Linked DNA regions of Homo sapiens: region 1 is linked to region 2. The links come from fine-mapping of genetic effects on gene expression. A gene starts in region 2. The other region holds a variant in brackets. All regions are shown on one strand. Distances are from middle to middle.

What was found. PIP is the estimated chance that this variant, and not a neighbour inherited with it, causes the effect.
Region 1: its variant is the best candidate, but not a certain one, in a credible set for the expression of TIMD4 in whole blood (INTERVAL, PIP 0.51).

Annotation. Positions count from the first base shown.
Region 1 is chr5:156,999,412-157,004,801 of GRCh38, forward strand. No RefSeq gene overlaps it. Among named protein-coding and RNA genes, the nearest start is that of TIMD4, 39 kb to the left of the region's middle. The variant T/G (reference allele first, on the strand shown) is at 2,316.
Region 2 is chr5:156,960,242-156,965,631 of GRCh38, forward strand. TIMD4 (T cell immunoglobulin and mucin domain containing 4) reads right to left here and starts at 2,985. Exons shown (of 9, transcript NM_138379.3): 1 at 2,900-2,985. The coding sequence starts at 2,957.

The sequences.
Region 1 (5,390 bases), 39 kb after region 2:
TTAGCTGGGTGTGGTGACATGCACCTATAGTCCCAGCTACTTGGGAAGGTGAGACAGGAGGATGGCTTGAGCCCTGGAGGTGGAGGTTGCAGTGAGGCGAGATTGCATCACTGTACTCCAGCCTGGACAACATAGTGAGAAACTGTATCTACAAAAATAAAATAAAATAAAATAAAATAAAATTAAATTAAATTAAATTAAAATAAAATACAAAAATTTGCAAGTTAAAACTGCAATTAGGTAACATGACACATCCATCAGATTGGCTAAATTTAAAAACAGTAACAATATCAAATGCTGACAAGTGTCCAGAAACACCAAATCACCCATACTTGCTAATGGGAATATAAATGGTGCCACCATTCTGGAAAATTGTTTGGTAGTTTCTTAAAAACCTAATGCACAGGTAGATCCAAAATCAATCGTTAAGTAACAAAACAAGTTACAGAACAATATGCATAATTTGGTCTTCTTTTAAAATTTTATTTCAATCGTTTTGGGAGAACAGGTGGTGTTTGGTTACATGGAAAGGTTCTTTTGTGCTGATTCCTGAGATTTTGGTGCACTCATCACCTGAACAGTGTACACTGTACCCAATGTGTAGTCTTTTATTCCTCACCCTCCTCCCACTTCTCCCCCCAAGTCCCCAGAGTTCATTATATCATTCTTATGCCTTTGCATCTTCATAGCTTAGTTCCCACTTATAAGTGAGAACCCATGATGTTTGGTTTTCCATTCCTGAGTTACTTGACTTAGAATAATGGTTGCTGTGAATGCCATTATTTTGTTCTTTTTTATAGCTGAGTAGTATTCCATGGTATATATATAAAACACATTTTCTTTAACTTGTTGGTTGATGAGCATTTAAGACTGGTTCCATATATTTGCAATTGTGAACAGTGTACTATAAACATGCTGTGCAAGTGTCTTTTTCATATAATGACTTATTTTCCTCTGGGTAGATACCCAGTGGTGGGGTTGTTGGATCAAATGGTAGTTCTACTTTTAGTTCTCTGTGGAATCTCCACACTGTTTTCCATAGTGGTTGTACTAGTTTATATTCCCACCAGCAGTGTAGAAGTGTTCTCTTTTCACCACCTCCAAGCCAACATCTGTTATTATTTATTTTTTAATTATGGCCATTTTTGCAGAAGTAAGGTTGATCTTATTTTTAAAAGCACAACACAAAACAAAATGTATATGGGTATTTATATTTGTATTTGCTTAGGAAAAATTGTGGAAGGGATACACAGGCAACCATGAATTGCAGTAATCACTTCACTATGGAATAAGAAATGAGATTGAAGAAAACACATTTTCTAGATGTGATTAGAAGTAGTCTCTATAGCAGCACTATACAATAAAACATTTTGTGGTGCAGAATTAGAAAAAACTATTTTAAAATTCATATGGATCCAGAAAGGAGTCTGTATAGCCAAGACAATCCCAACCAAAAAGAACAAAGCCGGAGTCATCACTCAACTGAATTTCAAACTATACTGTAAAGCTACAATAACCAAAACTGCACGGTACTGGTACAGAAACAGACACACAGACAAATGGAACAGAATAGAGAACTCAGAAATAAGATCACACATCTACAACCATCAGATCTTTGACAAACCTGACAAAAACAAGCATTGGAGAAAGAACTCCCTATCTAATAAGTGGTGCTGGGACAACTGGCTATCCATTTGCAGAAAATTGAAACTGGACCCCTTCCTCACACCTTATACAAAAATTAACTCAAGATGGATTAAAGACTTAAATGTAAAACCCAAAACTATAAAAATCCTAGAAGAAAATCTAGGCAATACCATTCAGGACATAGGCATGGGCAAAGATTTCATGATAAAATTGCCAAAAGCAATTGCAACAAAAGCCAAAATTGATGAATGGGATCTAATTAAACTAAAGAGCTTCTGCACAGCTAAAGAAACTATCATCAAAGTGAACAGGCAACCTACAGAGTGGGAGAAAATCTTTGCCCTTTTTTTTTTTTTTTTTTTTTTTGAGACAGAGTCTCACTCTGTCACCCAGGCTGGATAGCAATGGCACAATCTCAGCTCACTGCAACCTCTGCCTCTCAGGTTCAAGCGATTCTCCCACCTCAGCCTCCTGAGTAGCTGGGATTACAGGCATCTGCCATCATGCCCAGTATTTTTGTGGAGACAGGGTTTCACCATGTTGGCCAGGCTGGTCTCAAACTCCTGACCTCAGGTGATCTGCCCACCTCAGCCTCCCAAAGTGCTAGGATTACAGGCTTGAGCTACTGCACCTGTCCGAAAACCTTTGCAATTTATCCATCCGACAAA[T/G]GTCTAATATCCAGAATCTACAAGGAACTCAAACAAATTTACAAGAAAAAGACAAACCCATTAAAAAGTGGGCAAAGGACATGAACAGACATATCTCAAAAGAAGACATTCATGCAGGCAACAAACACATGAAAAGAAAGCTCAACATTACTGATCATTAGAGAAATGCAAATCAAAACCACAATGAGATATCATCTCATGCCAGTCAGAATGGCCATTATTAAAAAGTCAAAAAACAACAGATGCTGGTGAGGTTGTAGAGAAATAGGAATGCTCTTACACTATTGGTGGGAATGTAAATTAGTTAAACCATTGTAGAAGATGGTGTGAAAGAATGATCAAGCAAAATAAAAATTAAGAATACTTGTTTACAAAAAAAAAAAAAATGTGTGATGATGGAAAGGTTCAACACTATGTTGTTCAACAGGGTAGCTCCTAGCCATCTGTGTTTATTGCACACTTTAAAAGTGGCTAATGCAACTGAGGACTGAATTTTTAATTTAATTCCATTTTAATTAATTTTAATTTTAAAATAGCCATATATGGCTACTGGCTGGCTTAGTGAACAGCACAGCTCTAGAATCAAAATGAATATATCCACAGCCTATTTCCACCACTTTCAAGTTATTTAAACACAAGTACATTTCTGAATGCCTCAATTTCTTCACCTATGGAATCTGGATGATAGGAATATTTTACTAGCAAAGTTGTTGTATAATCTCCTCAGAACTATACTTATATATTGATATAATTATTTCACCTCTTATTTAATACTTTGTGTACTTTTTAAATTTTGTACAATAAACATGTATTTCCTTTGTAAGTTTTATAAAATATATTTTTGAAAGCTAAAACTTCTCTGGTTTTGTACAGTCTTTCTTCCATGAATAGAAAAAAATTCACTTTGAGTCCCACTTTTCCCTCTACCCAGTTACAAGTTAAGGCTGACATTATTACATGGGCAATGGTGTAAAGTCAGAAATGGCTGACCTGTGGGTTCCTAAGAAGCCTGAGACTTCTCCGGCTTAAGCTCACATTTTTGCAGTGAGGCACTACTGGATACCTTCCTGGGCCTCTAAGGCTATTTATTTCCTTGAGCTATTTTCCTTCCCCTCTCACATACCTGAGATGTTCCACCCTTTAGAACTATCATGACCTGCTGTCTTCATGGAGCTTAGCATCTAGAGGTGGAGAAAGAGAAAACAAGTAATCAACTAATGTTGTAACAGATGCTATGAATAAAAGAAACAAAGCTGCAGATTAAAAAAAAAAAGGTTGGCAGAAATATTGATCAGAAACAGTCTTTCTGAGAAAATGACTATGACGGTGAATTTTATGTATCAACTTGACTTGGTCACAGGATGCCTACATAGCTAAACATTATTTCTAGGTCTATCTGTGAGAATATTTCCAGACAAGATTAGCATTTGAATTGGTGGACTGAGTAAAGCAGCTGGCCCTCCCCAATATGAGTGGACACCCTCCAGTCTGTGAGGACCTGAATAGAACAAAAAGATGGAGGAAATTAACTCTGCCTGACCACTTGAACTGGAACATCAATCTTCTCTGTTCTCAGTGAATCTGGTTTGCAGGCCTTTAGACCCAGACTATCATCTACACCATCAGCCCTCTGTCTTTCAGGCCTTTGAACTACCCTACCAGTTTTTCTATGTCTTCAGCTTGTAGAACAGCAAACCAAGGGACTTCTCAGCCTCCATAATTGCATAAGCCAATACCGTATAATAAATCTCTTCCTTTATAGGTAGAGAGAGAGAGATGGCATGAAATGAGCCAAAGGCATAGCCTTGCAGATAGAGGAAACAGAATGTGCAAAGACACTAAGTTGAGGAATAACTTGGAATTTCCTAGACATATAAAGAAAGCCGGTATGACCAGAAAGCAGTGAGTGAGAGAAAGATGGTGTGGACCATATTTGAATAACTACCAGAAAAAAGCCATATGACACAGGCCAAAGGAAGAACTGGGGGTTCATTCTAAGGACTATGTATAGATGGATTGTGTAATATAATTCACATTTTAAGGATATTGCTTTATCAGAAATGGAAGAATAATGGCCCTATAGTGCATCAAGCCTTCCTCTTGTTGGCTATTATTAAAAATGGCATCAGTGAGGCTGGGCATGGTAGCTCACATCTGTAATCCCAACACTTTGGGAGGTCAGGAGTTTGAGACAAGCCTAGGCAACATGTAAGATCCTGTCTCCACAAAAAATTTTTATAAAATGAATTTTTTAAATGGCATAAGGGCTCTTTTCACTCTAAGGGGTCATTTCAGTTACCTATTGCTACATGCAAAACACATTAAAACTTAGTGGCTTAAAACCACATTATATTATTATCTCTTATGTTTCTGGAGCATTCTCATTTGGGGTCACTTAAGCAGTTGCTATCAGATGATGGCTTGGACTGTAATCATCTGAAGGCTTGACTGGGCTAGACATCCAAGATGACTCCCTCCCATGGCTTGCAGTTGATGCTGGCTTTTGGTAGAAAACTCAGCTGGGCTGTCAACTACGGTATCTACCCAGCCTCTTCATCTGGCTTGGGCTGCTTTCATTATGACAGTTTGGTTCTGAATAAGAGCATCAAACAGAGAGCATCTTAAGAACAAGTGTTCCAAGAGGTCCAAGTGAAAGCTGCAAGCCTTGTTTTTTTTTTAGACAGAGTTTCACTCTTGTTGCCCAGGCTGGAGTGCAGTGGTGCAATCTTGGCTCACTGTAACCTCCACCTCCCAGGTTCAAGCAATTCTCCTGCCTTAGCCTCCCAAGTAGCTGGGATTACAGGTGTGTGTCACCACACCTGGCTAATTTTTGTATTTTTAGCAGAGACAGGGTTTCACCATATTGGCCAAGCTGGTCTTGAACTCCTGACCTCAGGTGATCTGCCCACCTCAGCCTCCCAAAGTGCTGGGTTTACAGGTGTGAGCCACTGTACCTGGCCTGAAAGTTGCAAGGCTTCTTATGATCTAACTTCAAAAGTTCCCGTAACATCACCTCTGCCACATTCTATAGGTCGAAGATCACTGAGGCTAACCCAGATTCAAGGTGAGAGGAAT
Region 2 (5,390 bases):
CCAAACTTCAAGTTTCCAGGATAAGACAAAGACAGTAAAAAAAAATTGATGAAAAGGCAGATGGTAGCTTTCTTACATCCAAACAAACCCATACCAAACCCAAAATATAAGTGTGAAAGTGACAGGGACTGCTTTCATTCTGTAGATTGTTTTTTTCTTCCCCCTTTTTTTTTTTTTTTTTTTCAGAAAGAGTCTCACTCTGTCACCCAGGCTGGAGTGCAGTGGTGCAATCTCGGCTCACTGCAACCTCTGCCTCTCTAGTTCAAGCGATTCTCCTGCCTCAGCCTCCTGAGTAGCTGGGATTACAGGCACATGTCACCACGCCTGGCTAATTTTTATATTTTTAGTAGAGACGGGGTTTCACCATGTTGGCCAGGCTGGTCACAAATTCCTGACCTCGGGTGATCCACCAACCTCGGCCTCCCAAAATGCCAGGATTATAGGCATGAGCCACCACCCCTGGCCTGTAGATTGTTTCTTCAGTGCCTATAATGTATCAAGGGTGGAACTAGGTGCTGGAATATAACAAGCCACAAAGCAGACCTGGGCTGCCCTCATGGGGCCTGCAGAGTACCTAGGAAGATAGTCAAATGAGTGAGCATTTGCTATAGAGTGACAAGTTTACAGATGCAGGAACTCCAAGGAGGATGCGAACTCATAGCAGAAACACCTGAACTATTCCAGAGGCTACAAGGTAGCCAGGAAAAGCCTGAATTAAGTAGGGACCTGAGGATGCATGGCACTACGGAGGAAAGAAAGGCAGAGAGAATAGTACAAGTTTGAGAGGTGATGAAACACATTTGTTTTCCTTCAAATATGGGTGTTTTCTCATGCACCATGTTGGAAAGGTTTCTGCACATACAAAGAGCCAAGAGGTAGAAGAAAAAATGTTTAACATTGCTAATCACTGGGGAAATGCAAATCCAAACCACAATGAGGTATCACTTCATTTCTGATAAAATGGCTACTATCAAAAAGACAAAAAGCAAGCATTGCTGGCGAGGACGCAAAGAAAGAGGAACTCTCGTACGCTGTTGGTGGGAATGTAAATTACTACAGCCATTATGGGAAACAGTATGGTGATTCCTTAAAAAACTAAAAATAGAATTACCATATGATCCAACAATCCCACTACTGGGGATATATCCCAAAGAAAGGAAATCAATTAAAGAGATATTTACTCTCCCATGTTTATTACAGCACTATGCACGATAGCCAAGATATAGAAGCAACCTACGTGTCCATCAATGGATGAATGGATAAAGAAAATGTGGTATATGGCCAGGTGCGGTGACTCACGCCTATAAGCCCAGCACTTTGGGAGGCCGAGGTGAGTGGATCGCCTGAGGTCAGGAGTTCAAGACCAGCCTGACCAATATGGTGAAACCCCGTCTCTACTAAAAATACAAAAATTAGCCAGGCATGGTGGCAGGCGCCCATAGTCCCAGCTACTTGGGAGGCTGAGGCAGGAGAATGGCGTGGACCCAGGAGGCAGAGCTTGCAGTGAGCCGAGATAGAGATAGTGCCACTGCAGTCCGGCCTAGGCAAAAGAGCGAGACTCCGTCTCAAAAAAAAAAAAAAAAAAAAAAAAAAAAGAAAGAAAAAAAAAAAGAAAATGTGGTATATAAACACAGTAGAATATTCAGCCATAAAAAAAGAATGAAACTCAGTCATTTGCAACAACATGGATGGAAACAGAGTTTATTAATATTGTGTTAAGTTAAGCTAGGCACAGAAAGACAAATATTGCATGTTCCCACTCATACATGAGAGCTAAAAAAGTTGATCTCATGAAAGTGGAGAATAGAATGATAGTCACTGGAGTCTACAAAGGATAGGGGAAAAGGGGTATGAAGAAAGGCAGGTTAATGGGTACAAAAATACAGTTAGTTAGAACATGAGGAAAAAGGGAAAAAATACAATTAAATAGAAGGAATAAGTCCTAGTGTTTGATAGCATAGTGGGGTGCCTATTGTTATTAATAATTTCTTGTGTATTTCAAAATAACTAGAAGAGAACATTTGAAATGTTCTCAGCACAAAGAAATTTAAATGTTTCAAGAAATGAATATCCCAACTACCCTGATTCGATCATTGTACATTGTATGTATATATCAAAATAACACATATGTAGCCCATAAATATGTATAGTTATTTTGTATCCATTTAAAAAAAAAATGGACTTTTGTAAAACTGCAAGGGCCATTCAATATTATCTTGTCCTAGAAGCACAGATTGTGACAACTGGTCATTTAAAAAGCCAGGTCTCTCATTTCAAATATGGGAGAGCCAGAGCAATTTAGACATATTCCCAGTGTCAACAGTTAGTGCCCGAGACGCAGCTGCAGCTCAGGCCAGAACACTTGGCTCTATACCACCAGGATGCAAAGAACTTCACTGGCCAAAACTGAGTGTGTACACTTGCATCATCCAAAACCCAAAAACAACGTGCAGAAAAGAAACCTTACATAAAGCCTCACCCCAGCAAAACAAAACAAAAAGCAAACACTTCTAAAAACAGAGGGAATGATAAGAATTATCACAATTCTCACCAGAACAAATTCTCCTGGCTTATTGATTATATGAATAACACCCATAGAGGAAATCTCTTTTCCCCAATTTATCTGACCACTTATTTCTGTGTCTCTTCTTCAGTTGCTGTTTCCAATATAAGCCCAAATTACCCCAGCCTAAAACCCCCAGACCAGTCTCTGGATAAACCTCTGTGTAACAAGGCAGGACAGAGACCCTCCACAGAAGGAAGCCTGGTAGGGAGAGGGGAGGGATGCAGAAATGAAGTGAGCTTCTGCTTCACTGAGGCCCAAACCAGTGCATGGAAATCCATCACACAATAGCAAGTCCTCTGGAAACTTCTACATAGAAGGTTTCAGAACACTTACTCAGGTAAAGCCACCAAAACTCAATCATCAGCCAGAGAATGAGAGGTTCTTTGGACATTTTGACGGTTGACCGGACCCAGGAGTCTGTCTATCTATCCAAAGCCCAACCTCTTATATCCCAGTTAATGCTGACAGGGTGGGACTCTTTAGTTTCATTTCTCTTTTTGCCTCATAATCTTCCCTTTCTCCTGTCCTACATGGCTTCCCCCAATGGGCGATGCATGATGAAATGTGCTGAGCCCTTTTCTCCTGGTGACTAGTGTGTGTGTGGAGGGATGGCGTGGACATACTTGTGCTTCTTTGTCCATGTGTATAGTGGGTTTCCTATATGTGCACAAGCATCCATGCATGTGCTGGTGCAAATATGCCTGTATAACCTGTGCATGTGCCACAGTTGTCCCAACTGCTGTACAGCCTGTCACAAAGTGCAATTGACTCTCCATACTGGCAAGTGTTTACATGTAGATTCCTCATGGGGCCAAAGCATAGTTAGACTGAAAGTTGCCTCCATTCCCATTCTAGGTTCTCCCTCACCCTGTCCCCTGGCCTCCTTGCCCTAATAATGGAGAAAGAAAAGTGAGGACAGGCACAGTGGCTCACACCTGTAATCCTAGCACTTAGGGAGGCCGAGATGGGAGGATCGCTTGAGGCCAGGAGTTTGAGACCAGCCTGATCAACATGGCGAAACCCCATCTCAATTTTTTATTTAAAAAAAAGTTTAATAAAAAAATTAAATTTTTTTTTAAGTTTTAGGAAGACACTGAAGCCCAGAACTTCCTGATTCCAAAGCTTATGGTTAATCACTACATTGTCCTTTGACCTGTGACCGTTTGGGTAATGTATCCATATGATGAGGCCTACCTGTGGCTAGCTCCTACTTAGTACCAGGAAGAAAATATAAGAATTCACAAATGTTCTAGATTTTTAAAAATCCTTAATTGATTGTAAACAGCCAGCAAACCTCAAACATTCAACATTGCTTCTACTGAAGGTATCAGTGAAAAATCTAAATATCAGGTGAGGTTCTAGACCCAGAGAAGCCAGACTAACATGAGCAGGGATGAAAATAACGGGATTCAGAGTGAATCTTCCCACTGAATGCCCACAGAACCAAGGGATCCTTTCCCCATTCTATCCCAGGAAACTGGAGGATTTAATCTCTGGATAAACTAAGTGGTCCCAATAAAACATTTTCAGATATTTATAGTTTTGAGTGTTCCCCAACAAAACCACTCAACCCTCCTTCAATAAGTTCATCAGTGCATGAGCCTCAGCCATGCATGCAGAACTGTTAATGAGTCTTTAGTGTCCCTTTCAGATATGAACAGATAACCAGGGATCATCAGACATTTGAGGAAAGCATTTAACATAAAAAAGAGACAAAAATAACAGGGAGAGCTAAAGAGAACTTCAAAAACTTTTTAAAAAGCTAATATTTTCTCAGAAAGAAAGATTTTACATTCATGAAAAAGAACATAGACATTATAAAAATGTCCCGAATTTTATGGAAGTTTTGAAAAATAAAGTTAAGAAAATTTGTTAGAAATTATAACCATCTACAAAGTCAAAGGACTAGGATTGTTTCAGAACATTAAAAAAGAAAATAGAGGAGAGGAAATTACTAAAGAAATAATAAAGGAAAGACTCTCGTAACTAAAGGAGATGACTCTCAGTATTGAGCGGGTCAATCAAATGCTAAACTCAATGAATAAAAATATCCCCAAAAAGCAAGACATTATCATGTAATATGAGAACATCAGACATAAAGAAAAGATACGAAAAGACTCCAGAGAGAAAGAACAACATATTGCACTGAATGGATTTGGAAATAGAATGGCATTGTTGTTCCAAACAACAAAGCTAGAAAATAATGCACGAATGCCTTCAAAATTCAGAGGGAAGGCCGAGTGTGGTGGCTCACATCTGTAATCCCAGCATTTTAAGAGGCCAAAGTGGGTGGATCACTTGAGTCCAGGAGTTCCAGAATAGCCTGGGCAACATGGTAAAAACCTGTATCAGCCGGGCGTGGCGGCTCACGCCTGTAATCCCAGCACTTTGGGAGGCCAAGACGGGCAGATCATTTGAGGTCAGGAGTTCAAGACAAGTCCCAGCAACATGGCAAAACTGGTCGCTACTAAAAATACAAAAATTAGCTGGGTGTGGTGGTGCATGCCTGTAATCCTAGCTACTTGGGAGGCTGAGGCAGGAGAATCACTTGAACCCAGGAGGCAGATGTTGCAGTGAGCTGAGATCATGCTACTGCACTCCAGCCTGGGTGACAGAAGGAGACTCCATCAAAAAAAAAAAAAAAAAGAGGAAAAGAAAATCTATATCTGCCAAAAATACAAAAAATTGGCCGAGTGTGGTGATGCGCACCTGTGGTCCTAGCTACTCCAGAGGCTGAGGTGGGAGGATTGCTTGAGCCCGGGAGGTGAAGGTTGTAGTGAGCTGAGATTGTGCCACTGCACTCCAGCCTGGAAAACAGACAGAG